5 separate regions of the Homo sapiens genome follow, and all the other regions are linked to region 2. The links come from fine-mapping of genetic effects on gene expression. A gene starts in region 2. Each other region holds a variant in brackets. All regions are shown on one strand. Distances are from middle to middle.

What was found. PIP is the estimated chance that this variant, and not a neighbour inherited with it, causes the effect. A credible set is the group of variants that fine-mapping cannot tell apart.
Region 1: its variant is the best candidate, but not a certain one, in a credible set for the expression of PIGG in aorta (GTEx, PIP 0.81).
Region 3: its variant is the best candidate, but not a certain one, in a credible set for the expression of PIGG in lung (TOPMed, PIP 0.68).
Region 4: its variant is the best candidate, but not a certain one, in a credible set for the expression of PIGG in whole blood (TOPMed, PIP 0.87).
Region 5: its variant is the best candidate, but not a certain one, in a credible set for the expression of PIGG in whole blood (INTERVAL, PIP 0.83).

The regions. Positions count from the first base shown.
Region 1 is chr4:536,287-541,388 of GRCh38, reverse strand. PIGG (phosphatidylinositol glycan anchor biosynthesis class G (EMM blood group)) reads right to left here. Exons shown (of 13, transcript NM_001127178.3): 13 at 1,189-2,236. The coding sequence ends at 2,020. Among named protein-coding and RNA genes, the nearest start is that of TMEM271, 37 kb to the left of the region's middle. The variant T/C (reference allele first, on the strand shown) is at 2,978.
Region 2 is chr4:496,854-501,955 of GRCh38, reverse strand. It overlaps PIGG (phosphatidylinositol glycan anchor biosynthesis class G (EMM blood group)), which reads right to left and starts at 2,746. Exons shown (of 13, transcript NM_001127178.3): 1 at 2,467-2,746; 2 at 1,355-1,560. The coding sequence starts at 2,620. ZNF721 (zinc finger protein 721) reads left to right here and starts at 2,800. Exons shown (of 3, transcript NM_133474.4): 1 at 2,800-2,900. RefSeq lists enhancers at 1,785-2,648, 2,606-3,085, 2,649-3,514.
Region 3 is chr4:520,266-525,367 of GRCh38, reverse strand. It overlaps PIGG (phosphatidylinositol glycan anchor biosynthesis class G (EMM blood group)), which reads right to left. Exons shown (of 13, transcript NM_001127178.3): 7 at 4,095-4,312; 8 at 3,427-3,708; 9 at 1,455-1,909. Among named protein-coding and RNA genes, the nearest start is that of PIGG, 24 kb to the right of the region's middle. The variant C/T (reference allele first, on the strand shown) is at 2,391.
Region 4 is chr4:412,284-417,385 of GRCh38, reverse strand. No RefSeq gene overlaps it. Among named protein-coding and RNA genes, the nearest start is that of MIR571, 65 kb to the right of the region's middle. The variant TC/C (reference allele first, on the strand shown) is at 2,162.
Region 5 is chr4:529,109-534,210 of GRCh38, reverse strand. PIGG (phosphatidylinositol glycan anchor biosynthesis class G (EMM blood group)) reads right to left here. Exons shown (of 13, transcript NM_001127178.3): 11 at 3,466-3,775; 12 at 230-393. Among named protein-coding and RNA genes, the nearest start is that of PIGG, 32 kb to the right of the region's middle. The variant C/GGAAGGGAACCAGC (reference allele first, on the strand shown) is at 2,856.

The DNA of each region.
Region 1 (5,102 bases), 39 kb before region 2:
CAAATTTTTTTTTTAGAGATGGGGTCTCACTACATTGCCCAGGCTGGTCACAAACTCCAGGCTTCAAGCGATCCTCCTGCTTCCCCAACCTCCCAAAGTGCTGGGATTACAAGCGTGAGCCACCATTCACTCTTTAAAGACTTTTCTGATGAGCTCGGTTGTGATATAAATAAGTGATTTTGGTATGGAATAATGAACAACATTTGGAAATTTCTATCATCCAGTGAACTGTTATTTTCCAAACAACAATGCAGATGTTAAGAATCACATCTGGGTAAAAGTTCCATTCAGGGTGCAAGACAGGTCAATGTGTCGTAATGCATCAGGACATGAAAGTTCATTGATATGATTTCAGATTCCACATGGCAGCTAACCTTTTCTTTTTCAAAATAACTTTTGTTTTGAAATAGTTGAAGACTCACAAGAAGTTGCAAAAATAGTATAGAGAGTTCTACATATCCTTCACCCACCTCCCCCCAATGATGGTATCTTACACAACCAGATAAATACCAGGAAAATGATGTGGGCACAATTCTATTAATTCGAATACAGCCCTCAGTAGCATTTCACCAGTTTTTATATGCACTCGTTTCTTTTCTTTTTGTCCAACTAACCTTCAGCAAACTAACATTTGTTGAGTTTTGGTGTTGGCATCAAAAAAGATTTGGTGTTGGTATCAAAAAAGAACATCCACAATAATCAGAAAAAGGACATTAAAATATGCCTCCTCTTTCCAACTACTGATCTGAGGCTGGATTTTCTTCATATATATATAATAATTATTATTTTTTGAGATGGAGTCTCACTCTGTCACCCAGGCTGGAGTGCAATGGCACAATCTTGTCTCACTGCAACCTCTGCCTCCCTGGTTCAAGCGATTCTTCCACCTCAGCCTCCCAAGTAGCTGGGATTACAGGCACCTGTCATCATGCCTGGCTAATTTTTGTATTTTTGTAGAGACAGGGTTTCACCATGTTGGCCAGGCTGGTCTTGAACTCCTGACCTCAGGTGATCTGCCCCCGCCTCAGCCTCCCAAAGTGCTGAGATTACAGGTGTGAGCCACTCTGCCCAGCCGATTTTCTTCTTATATTGTAACCAAACACACATATCACAACAGGTCAAACACAAAATCCAACTAGCTTCAATTAGGCCAGGCATTAAAGAGGTTTGTAAAAATGTAAAACATTATCACTTTTCTCATTAAACATTTATTTTTTCATTTTAAAGACAAGAGTCTCACTCTGTTGTCCTGGCTGGAGTACAGTGGTACAATCATGGCTCACTGCAGCCTTGAACTCGGCTGAAACAATACTCTTTCCTCAGCCACCTGAGTAGCTGGGACCACAGGTGTGTGCCATCACGCCCAGCTAATTTTTTGAAGTTTTTGGAGAGATGAGGGTCTCACTATGTTTCCCAGGCTGATCTCAAACACCTGGGCTCAAGTGATACCCCCACTCTGGCCTCCCAAAGTGCTGGGTCTCACTGAATTTTTTTGTTTTGGAAAATATAGTTACTTTTCCTTCAAGTGTTTCATTAATATGCAATAGATTCCTTATAAATGAATACTTTTTTATCTTAGTTTTCATCTCAAATGCCATAAACACTGATACATGTAACCCTCATAAACCAAAGCGCCTTGGGGCCCTCAGTGGTTTGTAGGATTCTAAGAGCTCTGTGCTCCCTAAGGTAATCTGGGTGCCTCCTCCCACAGAGCTCCTGGACTCTAACAAAGTCCAGAACCTTTTCATTCATTGATTTAAACACACATATTTGGGTCACACCATAGCTTATTCAGAGGAAATTAAAAGTTCAGAAGCTTCTAGAGTGATTGTCAATGGGGGAAAATATGATACAAACTGTATATTAAAGTGATCTTTTATTAAACTATTTACTGCTTAGTCTAAATTCAGGTAGAGCAGTCAAAGAAAGTTATCCATCAACTTTGTTGAATTCATATCTTTCATTTTAGAATAACAGCAGACTTTAAGCATGTATTATTTTTCCAGTGTTCAGCTTAGTCTAAGACTGTGTGAGTCTGGTTTGATCCATTGCCGTGAAGAATACACAGACAGCAGCTGTAATGAGCAGGTGCATTCCCTCGTAGAGAAGTTTTGGAGAAAATACACTCCATATAAATAAATGATAACGCAGAGATGTCACCAAAACGATGTACGTGAAAACTGGAATAGAACAAATCAGTGCGTAGCAGAAGCAAGCATGACTCAGTGCTGAACCACTGTTAATAAGAAAGAAAATGTGTATTAGCACATGCCACTTACATATCACACATGTAACAACACTTTTATTTTCAAAAAGACTCCAGTAGCTCTTGCCCTTGGAGTAGAGGGCACCGCGTTCCTTCTTCTGCACACACATCCAGTCACTATGGTGCTGGGACAGGTGCCTCTCCAGATGCGCTGGAGACGGGAAAACCCAACCTGCCCCCTTGGAGGCTGTGTTCTAGTGAAGGAGGCAGGAGAAACCAGATATGTAACATGTCAGGAAGAGACAAATTCATGAAGAAAAATGAAGCAAACAGAAGGATGGGTGAGGGCCACCATGTCCCCCCCCACACACACCTTGAGCTCTCCAGAAATGCTTCTGAAACTTGACTGTATGTAAAAATCACCTACAGTATGTGCTGGAAGTGCCACTCTGGAGCCCCCCCTACAGAAATCTGGATGTGGTTGGTCTGGGGTGGGCAGAGGTCTGAGTCTCCAGAAGGCACGGAGGTGCCCGAGGGGACATGAGCTGCAGCCCCAACTGCTCAGCCACTGTCTGCCACCGTCATCTGTAAAACAGCTCTGAAAAACGCACCCCCCAGACTTTGCAGTTATTTAAAAATTATATATGCATGTGCTACTATATCACATGCATTATAAAATACAAACGATGAATAGAAAATCACAAAAGGGTGAGATACAAATAAACATAAATACAAGTTCTGAGCTTTTCTCCCTGCTGTGGTGTGGAGGAC[T/C]GTCTGGTCTGGGGACACTGGCCCAGCGGGGTTTGCTGAGCAAATTCTCGGAATAAGAGCCACCCCTCGAAGTATGTTAATGTACCCCCTAGTTTTGAAACCACCAACACACTACATAAATCTCTTCCTCAAAGCAACTTCCCTGAGTCTGTGATTATTGAAAAATGATAAATTACATTATTTGGGCACTTTCCATGCCTCATCCATGACCTCTGATCAAGTTCTGTTAGAAAGGGCCCGGAGGCAGCCCCCAGATCCTCAGTCCTGTCGGCACGTGTGTGTGTCTGGGTGTGTGGGTCCCGCTGCATGTCCTGTAAAGGGCCCCTCGGTCCTGTCAGCACGTGTGTGTGGGTGTGTGGGTCCCGCTGCATGTCCTGTAAAGGGCTCCTCAGTCCTGTCGGCACGTATGTGTGTCTGGGCCCCACATGCATGTCCTGTAAAGGGCTCCTCAGTCCTGTCAGCCCAGCAGCTCCACCAGGTATTACTTGAGGGTGTCCTGTAAGTGGCTCCTGCTTCAGTGCTCACTGCTCAGGAAAGGGTGTCAACAGCCACGAAGGGCCAAGGACGGGGCTGTCTCTGGCCCCTCCACAGCCTCACCTCAGCCCCCCACCGGCTCCCCATCTCAGGCCTTGGAGGGGCCCATCCTCCTCTTGGCTTCTCCAAACACTCCTTCACCTCAGCCCGCCATGTGCTCCAGTAAAATACTCAGACCCTGGGATCTCCCGGTGGGTGGCCGGTGCCTCTGGTCCTTTCACTGCTTTCCTTGCCAGGCCCTGGCTCCTTAGGCGGGTCCCCCAAACCCGTACCGCTGGTCACCACTTGGTATCCAGCCCCACAGGCCGGGGACCCCACAGGGAGGTGGACCCCAAGGTATCCTCAATACACCTCCTGGTGACAGCAACACCCAGGAAAAGGTGAACATACTGGGCAGGAAGATTCGTGGCTAAGTGGGCCGTGGCCCCATCCTACCCAGACAGCGCATGGGGAAGCTGTGGCTTAGACATGGCACCACCTTGACTTCAGTTTAACACTTTATAGCGTTACCCACCTAGAAGATGGCGGCTTGCTGTTCCCACCACTTTAGCAAAGAGCCATTTGCGCTGCAGGGGAGCAGGCAGCCCGGGGTGCCAGCCCCTGGAACAGAGGGTCGCCAACCACTCAAGGCCACGTTTTTGACCTTTTGGAAACATATTTTCTCTGTCTACAATTTAGACCTGGTTATAGTTTTCCTACTCTACTGAAACAAAATAGAAACCATGAGTAAAACTTGATGCTTTAAACTTTTAAAAGGGAAGAAGAAAACCCTATAAAATGAAGGAGAAATGCTTCTTGACTAGGAAAAATATCATGATACTCTCCAGTTGATCAAAATGCTTTCACCTCACTTAATATTTGTCTTTTTCCCTCCCAAACACAAACGTGCCTGGCTGTGTAAGAGATGAAAAGTGCCTGGTCCATCAAACCGCAATCTGCAAGCACCAGGGCAGCTGCAAGGCCGAAGACCAAACCTACAGAGAGAGGAGCCGGGCAAGTACTTCCAGCCCTCCGTCTCCAGCTGGCCACTGGGAGGTGTGCCGTCCACCCAACAGGTGCTTGATCACGCCGCGCACAGCTGTAGCACATCCGTTCTCCAGGGCAGAGGCAGATGCACCTCCACGCGCTCACGCCCGCTTGTCCTGACACCTGACCACACGACGTGCTGACAGCCCACCCCAGACGGCCGAGGACGGCGTCTCCTGTTTCTGTAAGGCCAGTGTGAGCACGCGGCTGGCCTCAAAACCAAGTCAGAGAAAGACGTCCCAGGGCAGCTGCTGAGACAGGCGGACGCCGAGCAGGGGTCTCGTGGCAGATGTTTGTTTTTATGCAGAATCGAAGTCTGGAAGGACGTCTCCACACAGCGCCGCCACAGTGGGTGTCTCCCAAGCTGGTCTGTTGGTGGCTTCCGCCCGCAGAGCCTCAGCTTTCTGCTGTGATGACAAGCTCAGCGGTGACTGTAAATTACGGGGGTCTGTCCACAGACTGCCCCAAAGTGGGCGTGTCAAGCGTCCACAGGCACCTGAAGAAAAGGCAGGTGGATCTCAGGCATTCCTGTCCCCGGGAAGCTTGCAGTCTGGCCAGGGAGCGA
Region 2 (5,102 bases):
CATGCCCCTCTCCCCTTCATTCTCTCTCACCTCCCTCTCCATTCCTTCCAGAGCAGTTGTCACTGTCTGAAACCATCTTCATTGATTCATATTTTACCGATTTTCTATCCCTCCAATTAGAAAGTAAGCTCCATGAGGACAATGCTGTCTTGTTCTTCACTGCCTCCCTCCTGTCTGGAACAGTGTGGCACACAGTAGATGCTCAATAAATATTGCTGAAGGAAGTCACATCACATTGAAATGCGGCAGAGAGAGTAAGAAATTCAAGGAAAAAGTCAGTGAGTGATATGGCACTGTGCTTCCTTCAGTCTCAGACTGCTTTCATCCAGTGAACATCTGCCAAGCATCTGCAAATGGGGCTGCCCCCAAGCCTTAAATCAATAAGTAGCTCCTTCTCACCAAATAATGTTTCACATGATCAACAACACAGCTAAGGCTCCGTCAGAGACTTTATGCCACGCTCACATGCGATACACTCACACACTTCAACCCCTCTGCTCCTTTCTGTCCCCACCTTTATTCATCCTTCCAGTCTCAGTTTAAATGCAATTTCCTCAGCCAGGCTTTCTCACCCACTAATCATCACATCCTGTTCTTTCTCATCATGCATTAACCACACTTTACAACTGCATGTTTTCATATGCTCCTTTGTTGAGTGGCTGTATATCTAAAGACTAAAAGCTACATGAAGGCAGAGATACTATTTTTTCCCCAATTGCATACCCATTGAAGTATCACCACATAGTCGTTGCTCAAAAGTTTTGAGCCAATCAATAAAGGCTTACTTTTTTCTTTACCCACGGTTCTTGGGAAATGCACTATGTACTTCAAAGCTGCTGTCAGTAGGCTGGACACCTGAAGGATATGGTGGAAACAGTGGTAATTGTTGAGGCCGGAACATACTGATTTGATCATTATGTATACTGGTGGATAATTTTGGAGAAGTCACATTTAACTTATCTGAGTTTGCTTTCCTATCTATAAAGTCTAGAGACTGAACTAGATTAACTCTAAAGGCTCCTTCTAAGATTGTAAATGACCCAGTGACGATTAAAGAAGAAAGCAGGTCACCAAGAATGGCATATCTTGGGGTAGGTTAGCCTGGATGATCTTGCTCTAAATCTTTTATATTTGCCATGAAGCATGAGCTTTGGCTACTTGACATGGGGCACAAATGATGGGTCTCAGTTCCATCCCGTGTGAGGCTCCTTCAACATTCTATTGCCCCAGCCAACTGACAGCACAAAATTTCCACTTTCTTAAAATTGCAACTCCAAGCGAAAGACTACAGAGACCCCCTCTAAATCTTCAAAACAGCCAAACCATGATTCATAAAACATTAAGGCAAACTTACCTTGATTCGAGGCATAGTAACTGTAGGTGGCTTTGCTTCAGCCACAAAACTGTGAGATGCTCCTTTTTCCACAAGGTAAGTTGTGTAGGGCATAAATTTCACACCCTTTGACCCAAACACAAAATCATCTCTCAAGGCATCTATCAGAACAATAACAACTTTACTGAAGAGAGGTGGTGGCAGCGTGGTCCAGTTAGAACTGGCTCCTAAGTGTTTGAAAGAAAAAAAAGGAAATTGAACTCTAAACTTTCCTTAGCATCAAGCACCTTCACAATCTAGCTTCTACCTACTTCTCCAGCACATACCCTGCGATATCTACATAACCCAACCCAAAAGGAGGCGACTTGTACTTGGTAGGTAGTGCTGGGGGGAAAGGACGGGGGTTAACAGGAGTAATCTTAGGGACCCACAGTAGCAAGCAGTGAATTATCCTCAGTATGGTGAAGAGTACTGGGGTAGGAGAATCCCTACGTAAGGGTCCTGGAATGGGACATTTAGGGAGCTTGACCTAAAACGCAGAGCTGCAGCTACGGGATGGCTGGGCGTTTACATACTGCGTTTACATGGTCAGCGGCTGGCGATGTGTGCAAGTGGTCCAGAACCAGGGCGCCTTTACTTGCTGTATATGGCTGGGTAGGTGAAGCCTAGGAAGAGGCCTAACGCAGAGAGGCCTTAGCCCCTAGGCAGGGAAAACATCTTGGAGGAATATAAGAGACCAAAACGCGAGGGGATCGGCAGGGGTCTTATCTGTTGTGTGCTAGGGGGCAAAAAGGGCGCCTATAACGGGGAGTGACCCAAAGGCTGCTCAGGAAAGGGGCGGGAGCTCTGGACGAGTAGAAGTGGAGAGGCTGGATCCCAGGTATGGACACAGCTTACTTTGTGGTGATCAGGAAGGAAGGTCGAAGTGGGGCCAGTAGAGGTGGTTGCCACAAAGTTGTAAGAATACAGAAAAGAGACGCTGGAGCGGTTAAAAAAAATTTCTGAGGTGGGGACCATAATGGAAGAGACCACCGGGGAGCGCCGAGAAGAAATCCGAGCAGCGAGGCTCAGAAAAAAGGTCTTCTAGGGGATGTGGGGTCAGGGGAGCGGAGACGCCGGGGAGGGGTCCGTACCAGCCGAGGGTTCGGGCGCTGGGGGCTCCGCTCCGTGTTCCGCTCTGGCAGAGGAACGAACGGGAGCCGGGAAGAATCCCCGAAGGAAGACCGCGATCCCTAGCACCTCGATCGCTACGCAACAGGTAGCGAAAGTCCCGGAGCCCAGCCGCATCGTGGACACGCTAGGCTGGATGCGGAACCGACCCCACCTGGAGCCTCGCCCTGCTGCAGCCGCGCTTCCGGCTCCAGGTAGCCGCCTCTAAGCAATAACGCCAGGCCTTATCGTCGCAGCGACAGTGGCGTCACGTCCGCCGGCGCGCCACAGCAGCGCGTCACTTCCGCCAGCCCGCCACAGCGGGGCGTCACCTCGGACATACGAACAGCGGGCGGTGTTCCCGGCTCCGTGGGGCCGTCTTCCCGGCGAGTCCGCGACGGTCGCCGCCCACGGCGAGGTACGAGGTTTTAAAAAGTTTTTAATTTGGAAGGCAGGGTGCAGTGGCTCACGCCTTTAATCCCAGTACTTTGGGAGGCCGAGGCGGGCGGATCACGAGGTCAGGAGATCGAGACTATCCTGGCCAACATGGTGAAACCCCGTCTCAACTAAAAATACAAAAAATTAGCGGGGCGTGATGGCGGGTGCCTGTCGTCCCAGCTACTCGGGAGGCCGAGGCAGGAGAATCGCTTGAACCTGGGAGGCGGAGGTTGCAGTGAGCCGAGATCGCGCCACTGCACTTCTGCCTGGCAACAGAGCGAGACTGCGTCTCAAAAAAAAAAAAAAAAAGAAAATTCAACCCAATACCTCAGACAACTGGTAAATATCTTAATGATTAACTTCGTTTTAAAGATGCCACATGAGTGAGATCATGAGGTATTTGTCTTTCTGTGTCTTATTTTGCTTACATGATATCCTCAGGTTTATCCGTGTTGTGGCAAATGATAGGGTTTCATTCTTTTATTAGAGCTGAATAGTACTCCATTGTGTATATATACCACATTTTCTTTTTTCTGAAAGGAAAATCTTGGGGCCCCAAAATTACTAAACTAAGGGAAAAGACAAGCTCGGAACTGCTCAGGACAAACCTGCCTCCCATTCTATTCAAAGTCATTCCTCTGCTCACTGAGATAAATGCATATTGATAGCCTCCTTTGGAGAGGCTTATCAGAAACCCAGAAACTGCAACCATTTGTCTGTCACCTACCTGTGACCTGGAAGCCCCCTCCCTGTTCCAAGTTGCCCCCGCCTTTCTGGACAGAACCAATGTCCTTCTTTTTTTTTTTTTTTTTTTTTTTTTCTTTTTCTTTTCAGATGAAATCTCACTCTGTCGCCCAGGCTGGAATGCAGTGGCGTGATCTCAGATCACTGCAACCTCTGCCTCCCGGGTTCAAGCAATTCTCCTGCCTCAGCCTCCTGAGTAGCTGGGATTACAGGTGCGTGCCACCACGCACGGCTAATTTTTGTATTTTTAGTTGAGACGGGGTTTCACCATGTTGGTCAGGCTGTTCTTGAACTCCTGACCTCGTGATCCGCCCGCCTCGGCCTCCCAGAGTGCTGGGATTTACAGGCATGAGCCACCGCGCCCGGCCTGTTTTTTTTTTGTTGGTTTGTTTTTGAGACGGAGTCTCGCTCTGTCGCCCAGCCTGGAGTGCAGTGGCACCATCTCCGCTCACTGCAAGCTCCGCCTCCCGGGTTCACGCCATTTTCCTACCGCAGCCTCCCGTGTAGCTGGGACTACAGGCGCCCGCCGCCACGCCCGTCAAATTTTTTTTTTTTTTTTGTATTTTTTAGTAGTGACGGGTTTCACCATGTTAGCCAGGATGGTCTCAATCTCCTGACCTCGTGATCCGCCCGCCTCTGTCTCCCAAAGAGCTGGGATTACAGGCGTGAGACACCGCGCCCTGTCCGGCCTGTTATTATACATATGATTGATATCTCGTGACTCCCTAAAATGAATACAACCAAGCTGTGCCCCGACCACCTTGGACCCACGTCGTCAGGATCTCCGGAGGCTGTGTCATGGGCGTCCTTAACTTTGGGAAATAAGCCTCCTGAAATGATTAAGACTTGTCATTTTTCTCGATTGACATTGATAAGCACTGAGAGATCCTCAGTGAAGGTAACCCGGCCTGCAGCAGTTCGCCTATTGATCCTCGGTATTGGCTTGGCACCTTATTGCCCAAACTGGTAGGATGATTGCTGAAATCTGGGACCTTGTTCCTCCAGGGATCCCTGATCTTCCAACGTTTTTCGGTGGGGGGTCTGAGGTTTATTTGCTGTTAAAAAACTCCTTTTTTGGGAGTTCCCACTCGCTTCATCAAGGAAGGCAAGCCTGCCTGCTTCTGCATCGACAGATAGCCGTCTTCAGCTTGAGCCCCATCACTAGGTAAGAAAATTGATTTGGAATTTTGTCTTGCAAATTCTTTTTAAATGACTAAAGATAACATTAACAACCAGCTGGTGTTTATTTCTGCTTACACTTAGAGCGTTCAGAAGTCATAGGCTGGGCGCGGTGGCTCACGCCTGTAATCCCAGCACTTTGGGAGGCCGAGGTGGGCGGATCACGAGGTCAGGAGATCGAGACCATCCTGGCTAACACGGTGAAACCCCATCTCTACTAAAAATACAAAAAATTAGCCGGGCGCGGTGGCGGGCACCT
Region 3 (5,102 bases), 23 kb before region 2:
TTTGCTTTAGTTTCCTAAGTCTTCACTGCCAGACAATTAAAATTTAAGTCTCGGCAAATCTTAGTTATTTTTCTGTCCTGGTTTCTTCTACTTATTTCGAGCCTTGCTTGAAATGATTTGCTATACTTTCTAGGTGGTTTTCCAGTCGCCAATGAAAGGCTCAGGAGGTGGCTGAATTCCCCCACACGGCTCTGTCCCTTCAGGATGAGGAGAGAGAAAAGGGAGGATGGGGAGGAGAAAGGAGCTTTGCTAAGGGCAAAGCTGGCCCACAGAGGCTGCGCCTGCCTTGCCTGGCTGACCCCGTCCTTCTTGCTGCCCTGGGGATCATCAGCAGCAGGATAGGGGTCTGGGGGAATGACATGGCTTAGATGTTTGTCCACTGCAAATCTCATATTGAACTTGGACCTTCAGGCTGGGCACAGTGGCTCACGCCTGTAATCCCAGCACTTTGGGAGGCCGAGGTGGGTGGATCACTTGAGGTCAGGAGTTCAAGGCCAGCCCAGCCAACATGGTGACACCCCATCTCCACTAAAAACACAAAAATTAGCCAGGCATGGTAGCGGGCGCCTGTAATCCCAGCTACTCAGGGGGCTGAGACAGGAGAATCTCTTGATTGCAGTAAGCCAAGATCGTGCCACTGCACTCCAGCATGGGTGACAGAGTGAAACTCCGTTTCAGAAAAAAAAAAAAGACACTGAACCTCCAGTGTTGGAAGTGAGCCTTGTGGGAGACGTCTGGGTCATGGGGGCAGATTCCTCACGAATGGCTTGGTGCCATCTTCGCAGTAATGAGCGCATTCTCGCTGTGGCTGTTCACAAGAGAGCTGATGTTTAAAAGTGCCGGACACCCTCCTCATCCCTCTCTTTCTCCTGCTCTCGCCACGTGAAGTGCTGGCTCCTGCTTTGCCCTCGCCATGACCGCCAGTTTCCTGAGGCCTCTCCAGGAGCAGATGCCGACACCATGCCTCCTGTGCAGCCCGCAGAGCTGAGAGCCAAGATGAACCTCTTTCCTTACATGTGACCCGGCCTCAGGTGTTTCTTTATAGCAACACACGAATGGCCTGACACAGGCAGACACTGAGTGATGGGCGGGGGGCACACAGCCCAGGCATGGACGAGGCGTCCAGAACAAGCCACTAGCAAGCTTGACCCCCACATAGCATCTTTACTATATAATGATCACTGAAACACAAGTTTTCAATCATGAACAGTTACAGTGGTTCAGCACTAATAAATGAAACCTGTTAGGCTAGCCCCCAAATAAATTCACTTCTCAACATTGATTCTAGTATCCAGTAAAACACTGGTTTTAGTGTATTTTCCCAATTCTTCAGATCTCAAATACTATCCCATTCTTAATATGAAAAATGGTCTCAATTTAGAAAAAGAAGAGCTTGGCAGGTGACCAATCGGCCGTAGAAAGTCTGGCCTGTGGCCACGGGCCTACGCTCTCACCTGGTGAGCCAGTGGCCGAGGTCAGGCCGGTGAGCCCACTGCACACCTGTCTGGTTTAGGGAGCGCAGCAGCCGGCAGCAGGCCAGTATTAGCCACGGACTGGCCAGCACCATCCACTTCTCGCGGCCTCTGAGCACTTCGGAGGTAGAGGGGCTTCCGTGGCCTTTGTCTCGCTCCAGGACATCACAGCCAGGCCCGTCCTGCCACGCTGCTGTGGCCCCGTCATGCCCTTGTTCCACACAGAGGCCACACGGAGGCTCACCGTCATCTCCCAGAAAGTAGTTTCTGTAGGTTTCTTGGCTCAGAGCTAGACACAGGGTGTTCACAAGGAAGTACCAGGTCTGGTGCTCCTCCTCCACGAAGCTGCTGGCGCCCAGGCTCAAGACGTGGCCCGCCGTCCCCAACAGAATAAGAAGGTCTAGCTCTGACCACCTTGAGCTGGGATGCATGGGGTTCTGTGAAAAGGAAAGTGCACTTTGTAAGAGACGGTCTGATAACGACACACATCTTGCTGCATGTCAAGTCCTTGCTCACAGCAGAGAATGCCCTGGACACACACCATTGTTCCTCACACCCAGCACCTGGGCCCCTACTCTGGAACAGCCCCCTTCTGCTCCAACGGCAGGAACCTTCCTCTTGGGACGCAGCCTGCAGGAGTGGAGACGCCCTCAGCCCAGGCAGGGGAGCCGGACACTGCACGGCCAGCCAGCTGTTCTCACACTGGACTCCAAGTCCCAAGGTGAGTGACAAAGACTGAAAATGGTCAGAACCCTCTGGGCAGTGGTGCAGCCCAGAGAGCTTGCCCAAAGGCTCCTGGACCCGGCCCTCCACGCTCCCGCTTCCAGGCTCTGGAAGAGCTTAGGTCTTCAGATGCACGTCGCCAGTGCCTGCTTCTTGAAACCAAAGAACCTCAACAATACATCCCACCAAACCAGA[C/T]CTCAAATTTCTCCAGGAATATTCTAGAAATCCAGAACGTTTCCACTAAAATGGTTAATTCTGTTGAAATGACAAAGTTGGCATCACAGTACTGTCTCTTAAATATACTAACTTAAAGCAGTCAAAAGTAAAGATGAGGACTCAATTATTGCCGTTTATTCTTTTGGTAACTACATACTGCGTGCAGCTAGGTACTAATTCAATAGCAGGAGAGAGAGCATGAGCCCAGATGGGCCCGAGGTGCAAGCGTGGCACAGATCATCCTGGCTCCGAGGAAGCCTGTGCCCTGATGACAAAGCTGTGAGTGTCTCGGTCAGACACTCAGCACAGGGCCTCTGACGGCTCAAGCCAAGAGGGGATGAGGGCTGCGCAGGGTTGGGGTGGGGGCCCAACAGTCCTGCTGCCACTGCAGTGGGTCCCTTGATCCTGGGCTCTGTGGATCTGAGTGTGACCATCCGCCTCTTCCTCACTGCCTCACCACCACTCCCCAGCTAACGAATGAAGGTGTCCGAGGCCAAGGACTAAGAATTCCAACAGAAAACGTCCGCCTTGGAAAGAAATCTGGACCTGATGAGGCAGGATGCATTCTGGGGGTGGCAGGATGAGTGGTGCGACCAAGTCTCCTTTTGACCCTCCTGAGTGTCCAGGCCGATTGTCTCTTCTTCCCTCAGCTGCAGCTCCCACACCTCTGCTGGGAGGCTGTCCGATTCACACACCCCCTCAGCGGGGGGGCTTGTTCCTCTGTGACCGCCAGCTCTTTACAATCACCTTGGTAACAGTCGCAGGAACCTAGCTTTCCAAGAACTGAGGCATCTGACCTGACAGCACAGATGTGAACACCTGTGTCGGGACACCCAGAGGCCTGGGATAAGGCTGCTCCACGTCCTTCCCTGAGGCCCCCTGTCCAGGGCACTGCCAGCACGTGGCACACACCAGGTGTTCAACCAGAGTCTGGTAAACGAAAGGCAGCCTGAAATAACAAGAACAACCTGAGCAGAAGGACTACGTCACACTCCCAGGAACCAGCCGTACGTACCTTCCTTGGGGTGTTTCCACCCACGAGCACGTTGGTCAGAACAGACACAATCACACACAGCAGCGCCGAGGCCAGCACCATCACCCCACCTGCCGCCAGCCACGAGAGGCCACAGAAGTAGCACGAACTTTCAGCTGAGGTGCACACAATGACGTGAACGGCCGAAAGAACCAGGATCACCAAATAAAAGAGCAGAGAAAACCCAGGAGATGACAGTGGGACTTCCAGCTCAGCCTTTCTGCGCAGTGCCTGTGGGACGCTGAGCAGGAGCAGGGTGAGAACCTGGAACAGAGAAACAGCAGCATCCACAGACTGCTGGGCTTGGAGAAACCCACTTAAAAATAAGCCCAGCTCCCGCTCTCGTGTCAGCTGTCCACACAGTAAAAACAGAAAAGCAAGCTCAGGAAAAGATGATTCCTAATTAACTGCCCCAAAATGCATGGCATGATTTTTTTTTATCACCTGCAGCAATACTGAGTGAGGCCAATTGACACTGACAATACTCTGGGTCTTGTCACAAATCAGGACACACCACGAAAGAGTTAAACAAGAAAATTAATATTTTCCCATTTTTAATAACACCTATATATATATTTAAAACTATAAATATTTGGCTGAGTTATCAAATCAATGCAACACCTGAGCCATGACTGTGTGAGCATCTGTACCTCCAAAACCACGACAGTCCCCACCATCATCGAATAGATGTCGTACTGGGCCACTTGTGCACTCAGGGACAAGCTCAGCGTCTTCAGAGCATCCAGGTACTGCCTGAGAACCTTGGAGCCCAGGTTGAATAGGACTTCTGAATGCTTTTCCTCCAAGTACAGTCTGATCCAGTTCCCATGCAATCTTTCTGACATTTTAAACTGCTCAAACCCAGGATCTATTAAGAAGACAGAAAGGTTACAGGCGCGCACACACACCGTGAACATACATTTATATACATAATCTCAAAGTATTCGGTTATGCATGGCACACGGCAAAGCCTTCACTTTTCACAACTGACGCTTAATGAAGATCAATCATTCCTTTGGGTGGGGGGTCTGCAACGCCTTCTGTAAAGCTGGGAAAGCTGCCAATGTGCATCCATCTGCCCTCTGGCGATGCAGGCCTTGGTCCTTGGCATACACCCGCGGATGGCAGTGACTGACCCCTGTGCTGCCTGGCCTCCTTCTCTGCCTCCCTCATCGCTCTTACTTCCTTCTCCCTGTTCTGTCTCTTTCCACTCTCTCCTTCTTGTCAACGTGCAATATAAAAACAATCCTGAAATGCATTATGTCAACAGTCAGGTTTTAGAGTCTTTCTAACCCTTACAGCACTGTATGGGGACTGGGCAGGCAGCGGCCTGACCCTTCTCTGCCACACCCACTTCCCCAGTGCAGACTGGCCCTTCCCGACCTCTAACGTCCCCCGTTCTGCAGCCTGGGTTACTTCCTTACAACCTCTTTGGAAAGAGAGCTTCCAGCCCTCTCTGCTCACAAGGGTGAGCTCTGCTGGGCGCATGGATGCCCTGCCTCTGGATGGAGCCCTGCCCCTCTGCTATGGCAACCTCTTTTAAACCACAGTGCCATGCTGCTCACGGCACAGCTGATGTTCTTTCTTTCCCGAGCTGGCTGATGCGTGAGCCTCTGCCGGGACCACACTCACTTGTGATTAGACTGGTCTGCAAAGCA
Region 4 (5,102 bases), 85 kb after region 2:
ATACAACCCTCTTGATGCCCCTCCCAAGAACAGGCTGACTTCAGGGTGAAACATTCTCTAATCTTGAATCTGATTTTGCCATTCTCATTCTCCATTCTGCCTTCTCCCTCCCATCTTCCTTCTAATCGTTTGATCCTCCATATGAAAAATCACCCTTATCTGTCTCATTTTGGAGGTGCTTGCAGATCTTGTGCTTAGTGCTTTTTCCATTGCAATACTCCTTAAAATAAAGTCACTTCTTACCTACATCAGAATTTATTTTATTTGATGATATCTAGAAACAGCCCGATGACAATAACAATTACACCCTCTCAGAGGACATCACAACCCTCCTCCCATCCCAACTCTCACTGCATCTGCCTGTGGATCCTCAGCTTTCCAGGGCTCTGTAGCTTCTCAGTATAAAGGCTCCTTTCATGTCTAATTTGAGCCAGGCTGGGACACCTGCAGAAAATGTTCCCAGGAAGAAACTACCGGGCTACTGATGACCTCCTTTGGCAGGGTCAAGATTGGCCTTACCTTGCAGTCAACAGTCTTAGGTCTCTGATTCCCAGTCAAGATTATTCACTTAGTTTTATATAAAAGAACTCGGTGTTTAAAGAAACCAGCAAAATTCCTCAAACTCATTGCTTATGTTTATAGGAGGAAAGGAGATTGTAAGGCACTTACATTTTATACTTCAACAAGAAAAACCAAAATATATATCAATTTCAGACAATAATCATTTAGGTATTATTTCCATAACAACAAATAGGAAATCATACATGAACATTAACCAGGAATGTCAAGTCCTATTCCATAAAATTTAACATTAAATTCAGACATCCAGATAACAGCATACAGAGCAGACTTATTCATTACTACAAATTCCCCACCACGCAGAAAAGAGAAACTGATATTTTGGCACATCTCTAAATCACCAATTTATCTACCAAAATTTCTTCTAAAAATGCATTCAGTTCTCTGCAGCCATAGAGGAAGAGAAATGTTTCCTACTTTTTTTAACCCAGTAATATTCCCATAACTAGGCCCTGAGGTTCTGTTTGAAACCACTCCCAAAATATACAGATCTGAAAAACTTATTACACGTGTCAAGGGAAAACGAAAGAATTTTTAACAAATATACCATTAGACATTTTTTAAGTTTACATATTTATGCCTCTTTGAGAATATTCTCCTATCTTTCAAACTCTACCAATAAAATGCATTGTACAGTTAATAAAATGGAAGTTGAAATAAATAAACATTTTTTTCAAGATGACAAACCCAAGGAGTGGCAGTACTGGCTGGAATAATGATATGTCTGACTCAAGTGTCAAGTTGGGCTGTCTGTCGTGTGATGTACATCCTCACACCTTTATCCTTCTCACTGAAGTACTCAATGACCACCCTCCCAAGAGCCTCTGCACTGCATCCCCATGTGTGCCTGGAGTGGTGTTTTGTGTGTGTGTGTGTGTGTGTGTGTGTTTGTGTGTGTGGGTGCAGGTCCATGCACCATCTTGCTAGAATGGACTTTGTCTCTGGGGATACTATATTCTTCTCCCTTCACAATTCTGAAAAAATCCAGATGGTAGAAATTATTTCTGCCTTTCCCCTCAGTATCAGCATTCCATTGGCTGAGCAGCAATGTGATTCCAAAAAATGGAAACTGGACTGGGAGAAAGAAAATCTTAATGCCACAAGGATGTGGCTTTTTGAATGAAGCGTAAACCACAAGAGTGCTCTGAGCACCAGGTCACCCAGCTGCTTCCGAGAGGGTCCACCCCACACCTGAGGCCGTCCACTATGAGGAGATGATTCAGTAACTGTTATGCCCTAAGCACTCGAAGACACATGGCTACCGTGGGCATCTGGGATCTTCCCCAGACAGTTCTGAAGCCTAGGACCAGGACAAGACAACAGGATGGCTGAGGACAAATTACCTTCTAGAGTTGGGAACCTAAACCCCAAATCGTTCTGATAAAGTGTCTGTATCTGAAGAAGAAAAAAGAAGAGGCACAAAGGATGCACACTTTTACCACTATTATTCAACATAGTACTAGAAGTGCTAGCTAGAGCAATGAGACAAGAGAAAACAATAAAGGCCATCCAAACTGGAAAGGAAGAAGCCAAATTATCTTTGTTTGCAGATGATGTGGTCTTATATTTGGAAAAACCAAAT[TC/C]ACTAAAACATGATTAGAATTGATGAATTTAGTGAAGATTTAAGATTTAAAAATTAGTAGTGTTTCTACATGCTAACAGTGAACAATGTGAAAAAGAAATCAACTAATCCCATTTACAATAGCAACAAATTCAAATTAAATACCTAGAAATTAAAGAAATGAAAAATCTCTACAATGAGTACTATAAAACACTGATGCAAGAAATTTAAGAAGACAAAAAACTGAATAATATTTTATGTTTATGGATAGGATGAATCAACATTTTTTAAATGTCCATACTACCCAAAGCAATCTACAGACTTAACACAACCTCTAGAAAAACATCAATGACATTCTTCCCAGAAATAGAAAAAACAATCCTACAATGTAGACAGAACCACAAAAGAATCAGAATAGCGAAAGCCATTGTAAGAAAAATAAACTGGAGGAATCATAGTATTTGACTTTAAATGATACTACAGAGCTACAGTAATTAAAACAGCATGAAACTGATCAGTGAAACAGTAGAGAGAATGCAGAGACATATCCACATATCTACAACCAACTTATTTTTGACAAAGGTGTCAAGAATATATACTGGGGAAAGGAGTCTTCAATAAATTGTGCTAAAAAAACTGAATATCCATATTCAGAAGAATGAAACTAGACAACATCTCTTGTCATATAAAAAAATTAAATCAAAATGGATTAGAGACAAATCTAAGATCTCAAACTACGAAACTCCTACAAGAAAACATTGCTGAAACTCTACAGGAAATTAAACTGGGCAAAGATGTCTTTAGTAATACCCCACAAGCACAGGCAACCAAAGCAAAAATGAACTAATGGAATCCCATCAAGTTAAAGTGCTTCTAAAGAGCAAATGAAACAATTAACAAAAAGACAACACATAAAATGAGAAAAAATGTGTAAACTGCCCATCAGAAAAAAAAAAAAAAACGAGAATACATAGTGCGCACAAACAGCTCTATAGGATAAAATTGAATAATCTGATTATAAATGGGCAAAAATTTGAATAGACATTTCTGAAAAGAGGGCATACAAATGACAAAAAGACACATGACAAGGTGCTCAAGATCATTTATTATCAGAGAAATGCAATCAAAATGACAATGAGATATTATCTTACTCCAATTACAATGGCTCTAATCCAAGTCAGGCAATAACAAATGCTGATGAGGATGTTGGGAAAAGTGAACTCTAGTGCTCTCTTGGTGGGAATGTAAATTAGTACAACCACTATGGAGAACAGTTTAGAGGTTCCTCAAAAAATGAAAAATAGAGCTACTATATTATCCAGCAATCCCACTCCTAAGTAGGTACATAAAAGAAATCAGGACATCAAAGAGATATTTATACCACCATTTTTATTGCATCAGTGTTCACATTATCCAAGATTTAGAAGCAACCTAAGTGTCTATCAACAGATGAATGGATAAAGCAAATGTGGTACATATACACAATGGAATATTTTTCAATCATAAAAAAGAATAAGATCCTGTCATTTGCAACAACAAGTATGGAACTAGAGGTCATTATGCTTTTTTTTTTTTTTTTTTTTGAGACAGAGTCTCACTCTGTTGCCCAGGCTGGAGTGCAGTGGCGCGATCTCCGCTCACGCCATTCTCCCGCCTCAGCCTCCCAAGTAGCTGGGACTACAGGTGCCCACCACCACGCCGGGCTAATTTTTTGTATTTTTAGTAGAGACGGGGCTTCACCATGTTAGCCAGGATGGTCTGGATCTCCTGACCTCGTGATCCGCCCGCCCCGGCCTCCCAAAGTGCTGGGATTATAGGCGTGAGCCACCGCTCCCGGCCGAGGTCGTTATGTTTACAGATATAATCCAGGCATATAAAGTAAACTTTGCATGTTCTCACACATTTGCTGGAGCTAAAAATTAAATTAATTTCATGAAACTAGAAGGAGGATTGTTACCAGAGGCTGGAGAGTATACTACAGGTCTGGGAGGAAGTGAGGAAAGTTAATGGTTTCAAAAAAATTAGAGTAAGATTTAGTAGTTGCTCATATAACAGAGTGACTATAGTCAAAAGCAAATTAACTATACATTTTTAAATAACTAAAAGAATGAAATCAGATTGTTTGTAAAACAAAGGACAAATACTTGAGATAGTGAATACCTATACCTTGATGTGATTTTTATACATTTCTTGCCTACATTAGAAATCTCATGTTGGCCGGGCACAGTGGCTCACGTTTGTAATCCCAGCACTTTGGGAGGCCGAGGCGGGTGGATCACAAGGTCGGGCGATCAAGACCACAGTGAAACCCCGTCTCTACTAAAAATACAAAAAAATTAGCCAGGTGTGGTGGCGGGCGCCTGTAGTACCAGCTACTCAGAGAGGCTGAGGTAGGAGAATGGGGTGAACCTGGGAGGCGGAGCTAGCAGTGAGCCGAGATGGCGCCACTGCACTCCAGCCTGGACGACAGAGCAGGAGTCCATCTCAAAAAAAAAAAAAAAATCTCATGTAACCCATAGATATATAGCTACTGTGCATTCACAAAAATTAAAAATTAAAGTAATAAAGATATCAATTTAAACTGCAAGAACAAAAACCACTGATCCTCATTTCTTCATAGATAAATGATCTTAGCACCATATTGATTACATCGCCTTTGTGGGAATTCCAAAACATAGTTAAGAATATGTACTACTTCACTTTAGCAAAATGCCAAAAACATGTAGAAGAGAAGAAAAATGTTATTACACATGCTCAGTACATCCTTACCTCCTCCCAATACAGTATGGTGAAAACAAGGAGAAACTCCCAACTCTATGCTTCTTCCTCAGGAGAGAAAGAGAAATGTAGAATATGTGTCCACATTTTTGGTTTTTAGGGGGCTGTCAAAGATGGGTTCCCCTGACACAGAGTGCTGAAGAAAAAGGTGGTATACTTTGGATGACAGCAGCTATGCATTTTT
Region 5 (5,102 bases), 32 kb before region 2:
GGGGAGCCCGGCGAGGCCCCGTCAGACCCGACCCTGGCCCTACACGGACACCTCAGGCCGGCTTCTGGCCCTTGAGCTTTGGACCGTTCCCTATTTAAGGAAAAGAAAACTGTTGAAAAGACTGTTGGACCCATGGAGCTTAGACCCCCTTGCATCTGGAACAAAGTACGACCCTTAAAACCAGGCAGCCGGCCCCCAGAACTGTGCTGACGGCAGAGAGGCGCCTCACCTGCGTGTTTCTGAGCTCAGGAAGTGCACTAAGTGGCTGGCCCACAGCACAGGCCCTGCGTACGTCCCAAACGCTGTCAGGAGCACGGCTGGGATTTCCACGTAGGTGTCTAAGCCCACGAAGCCTGCGGAGATGTCCACGGTGGCAATGTTGTTGGAGTTGCCCTGGAATACAGGAGAAGAGCTGACAAAGGCCTCACAACACGTGGCATCAACAGCCACGATGTTAGCGTGAGCCACGATGTTAGCGTGAACTGTGTAGGCAGCCCAGATAACCACGCCGGCACGGACACACGTGTGGTCAGAGGTGGCTGCCCAGCCGTTCCTTCAGACTGCCGAGCTGGCCTTGCCTAGGTGGCACCCCCTCCCCCTGCCTGCAGTGCCCAGGCTGCGGAAGGGCACGTGAGCGGACCGTGCAGAAGCTGGGGCCCCCTCTGAAGAGGGACGCACACACAGACCGGCTGGCTGACTGTGCCACATCTAAGACCCTTGTCCAGACCCATCGACTTAAGACAAGCACATGAAGCTCCCCTCAAGGACCCCCATCCGAGGGGCGCATAGGGCCCTGAGAGGCCAGCTGCTGGGCCCAGCCAAGCGGGGAGCTGGGCTGAAGACTAGAACGGGCACCCAGCCAGGTCCCATCTACGGTGAGGTGCTGCCAGTGGGTTATATGGTGGAGGGCAGGCCAGCCACTGGGGGAGCACAGCCCCTGGTGCAAATTGGTAACTCACATCTGGCTTACGTATCAGACCATGAGGACTCACTTGGTCTGGTCAAACTTCATCTGTCAAGGTTCTGGCCAGTCCCGGCCCAGCCCTGGTAGGTAACTCCCTGCAGGATGCAAGCGCTGATGCCACACAGCTTACCCTGCTCCTAGTGATTCTGGATCCCAAAAAGGGGTCTTCTGAGAGACCCTGCCTCTCTGCGCAGGCCCCGCCTCTCCACTCCAAGACCACACCTTTCCACTCCTAGGCCCTACCTCTCCATTCCTAGGCCCCTCCTCTCTGCTCCCAGGCCCCGCCTCTCCACTCCAAGACCACACCCTTCCACTCCTAGGCCCCACCTCTCCATTCCTAGGCCCCTCCTCTCTGCTCCCAGGCCCCGCCTCCCCACGCTCCATCTTTACTGACTCTGATGTCTGTCACTTGCCTGTCATGCTGACCTTTCCTCAGAAACTCATGACATCTACAGTCCGACAGCACATGTCTCTATCAAGCTCAACGAAGATCCCTCTCCAGAACCAGAACTGTTCATGTCCACAAAACACTGGCTGGGTGCTCACCAGCTTGGCTCCTTCCTCCCTTTCCATGCAGAGAGCTGTGGGCCCAGGGGGTCCCCAAGTCATGTTGATGCTGCTTCCCCATTATCTCACAGATGTGCATTGACTCCTATCCCTGTTGTCTTAGGCCCCAGCCCTTTGACTTGGCTTGCCCTGAGACCCACTGGACTCGCAGCTACTGCCTCTCTTGGACGGTGCCACCCCAGTCATGTGTCTCCTCCACTTGGAAGCTCTTCTGCAGGGAGACTGAGGAGAGAGCAAACAGGCAGAAGCAGTAGGAGACCCTGGAGGGTGGCAGGGGGACAGAGTCCCAGATGCCACGATGGGAGCAGGGGAGGAGGACACCTAGGAGGTCACTGTGGCTCTGAGCAGGCTCAGCCAAGCACAGAGACTGCCAGCCATGCTGACATGTCTGCAGCTGCACAGCAGCTTTACCTGCATGACTTCATCTAACCCAACAGTCCTGATGTGCTTCGTGATTATCCTCATCAAACAGGGAGGAAACGGAGGCAGAGAGACCCAGGGACTGGGCAAATGTGGAGGGCCAGCAGATGAGCAAGGGCAGTCATGTTCCTGATCCCTGATCTGTTAAGGAACTGCCCAGTCGAGGGCAGGAAGTAGGGATGGGCAGCAAAGCCACAGGTTCCTCTCAGAGGAGATCTAACACTGAGGGGCAGCGGACTCAGCCTCAAAACAGGGGCCACGGGGAGGTGGGGAGACCAGGGAGGGCTGGGTCCTGGGGAGGCCGGGAGACCACTATCCCTGGTTTACAGATAAGGAAACGAAGGTGTGGCAAGAGCCTGCCGGAGGCCACCTGGCTTGAACGTGCTGGATACCAGCATCCAGGCCTGCAGTTCTGCTGGGGACACCCTTGTGCCTTGCGTGGACATGGCAGGGAGAGCTGCAGCTGTGTACGAGGAGGACAGGGGCCTGAGCGGATCAGAAGGGTCGGGGAAGCACCAGGACGGGGCTAAGAAGCTGGCCATTGGCCACCTACTCATTGTACCTGAAGACACAGACTTCTGTAACTTCACGCCTACCACCTTTGGGCTTCAGGATCAGGGGGACAGACATAAAGACAGAAAATCCTGCAACTGTGGGCTGTTCCATGGGAAAGGCTGGGAGCACCAGGAAAGGAGAAGAGGATGGAAGAGAGGCCCTGTAGGGACACAAAGAACTGCACATGCCTCCTGGGTACGAGACAGCGGACAGGCAGACACCGGTGCACACCAAGAAAATACAGACCTCACGGTAGAGACCAAAATGCAACCACGACGTTCAGCTGCTGCAAAGCGACTCAGCCTGGGAGTCGGCACTGGAAGGGAACCAGCAGGGCTGTGCCTGCTCT[C/GGAAGGGAACCAGC]CTGAGGTTGCCGGGAGGCTGGATGAGGCTGGATCCCTCTGAGGCCCCATCTGGCCTGCTCTCCTGAGGTTGCCGGGAGGCTGGATGAGGCTGGATCCCTCTGAGGCCCCGTCTGCCTGTCCCTCTATGTCTCTTCAAACTGAGGTGGTTTGGGCTTGTCTGGGATGGGTCTTTAAACACCGGACAGAAGCCCTGACGACCCACCAGGCTTCAGGGAGCTAATAATCATGGGGGCACCAATGGTCCCCAGTGTGGACAGCCCCGACACCAGGGGCAAAGGGCATGAACGAGAACAATTATTACATTCATCAGTGAAGCAAGTGAACAACGTGATGTCTGTGCTTCCTGAACTGCTTGTAATAAATAAACCCAGGCCTGGCCCAGCAAAGCAGCAGTCTGCTGTCTTAAGCACCCACACATCCACACCTGGGACGCGTGTCTTAAACAACCGGCTGTACTTTGTCTTATAAAATACACGAGAGTTCAGCGTAATTCACCATGCCACACTGACAGTCACTTTCCAACTTATGGGAACATTTTCTCAAAGAAAAATTTAAAATAAATATGTAAAACATGAAGTCTACTACCCATGATAATAATGAAAACCTACCTGAAAATAGAAGAATGCTTGACCAAACCAATAATGCATCACAGTAATCTCAGCTGCATCGTGTCTCAGGGGCTTCCAGATGAATTTAGTCATTAGAGTCTGAATCAAGAGGCTAAATGCTAAGACCGGAAGATTATGTGGTCTAAAGAGCAAGGCTGCCAGAAGAACTAATCCACTATATATCTCCCATAAACCTACAGTCTTGAGTTTGAAGTCTGCAGCAATGACTTGAGATTTAAGTAAGTCTTTGGTGCCCGTGAACAGAATGCCAAGGACAAAGACATAAACAAAACGAGCTTCAATAATACCCCTAAAAAAGAGCAAAACAAGTTAGATTCATTAGCACCAGTGAGAAAAATTCAAAAACATTTTCCCATGAAAAACACACCTATCTACCCAGGGAACCAGTAAATGTCCAGCACTGCTGACTAAAGGAGCCGCGGCACCCTCCCTACCCCCCAGGTCCTGTCATGGCAGTGGGCATGTCTCCTCCGCACAGCAGCCCTGAGGAGCCGCCGCCACAGGCCCACAGGTGTGTCCTCGTGCAGACTCTTCCGCTGGGGCTGGCTTCGGGGAGATCTTGCTCATTTGGCTCATCTGGTGGCACGACCCAAGCGGTGCCCTCGTGGCCCGCCTGCTTTGCAGTTAATTAAAAAAAACCCAACGCACTAGTATAAGAGTCAACTCTAAGAAACTGCTGTAAGTTCATAAATGTTCATTGCACAACTGAGCAGATTTAAAGAAGGATTTGCACATTTACAGGTACACATACATGCAGTTATAGGTAAATAAGCACCTGCACATTCACAGGCACACACGCGTGCAGTGGTGCAGTCATCCAACCCGCGGGCTCTGAGAAAAGGCAGAGCTCTGCTCAGTCCGAGCCCTGCTGCTCTGCTCACTAGCTCTCCTACTCGGGCGTGTCAATCAAGACTTCTGACCCTCAGCTTTGCTATTTGTGAAATGGAGAGAAAATGGTTCTACACTTCACAAAGTCATCCTAGGAATTAAGCAAGGGAATGCAGGGAGTGCTTGGCACACAGTAAGCTCAGTAAAATTAAGTACTCTTATGATAGTTATCTGTAAAGGATACAATTACCAAAAAATTTCATCTTACAAAACACGTATGTTCCTAAAACATAATATTTTAAATAAATTTTGTAAATGAAATGCTTCACACAGCCTACAAATCTGATCATTTAAAATAATCGTAATTTTTAATATCATAATATTGTGAAAACTGAATTTTCCTATATTAGATTTTCTTAGAAAGCTTTTACATTAAGAAAGTAAACTTTGATCAGTTTAGTTCAAACAGCCTGAGCACTGTATACCATGTGCCTGGCAGTGTGGCTGCCAGGAGGGGCCCACATCCTGGCTGAGGAGCTGGGGTCAGGTACCTGGCAACCCCCACAGGCCAAGGTGTGTGCTAAGTTAAGAGTGAATTATAGGCCCATCTGCATTCAAAGAAGGGAGAAATCAGCAAAGGTCACAATCACTGGAGAAGTTTCATAGAAGAAAAGGGACTGGTTTCTGTGTCGAGAGGATGCTAGGGCAGGCAGGGTGATGAGCAGGAGGGGCATCATCCAGGGCCTTTGGTGGGTCCTCCTCCTCCTCCCCTGGCCGGGCAGAGTCTG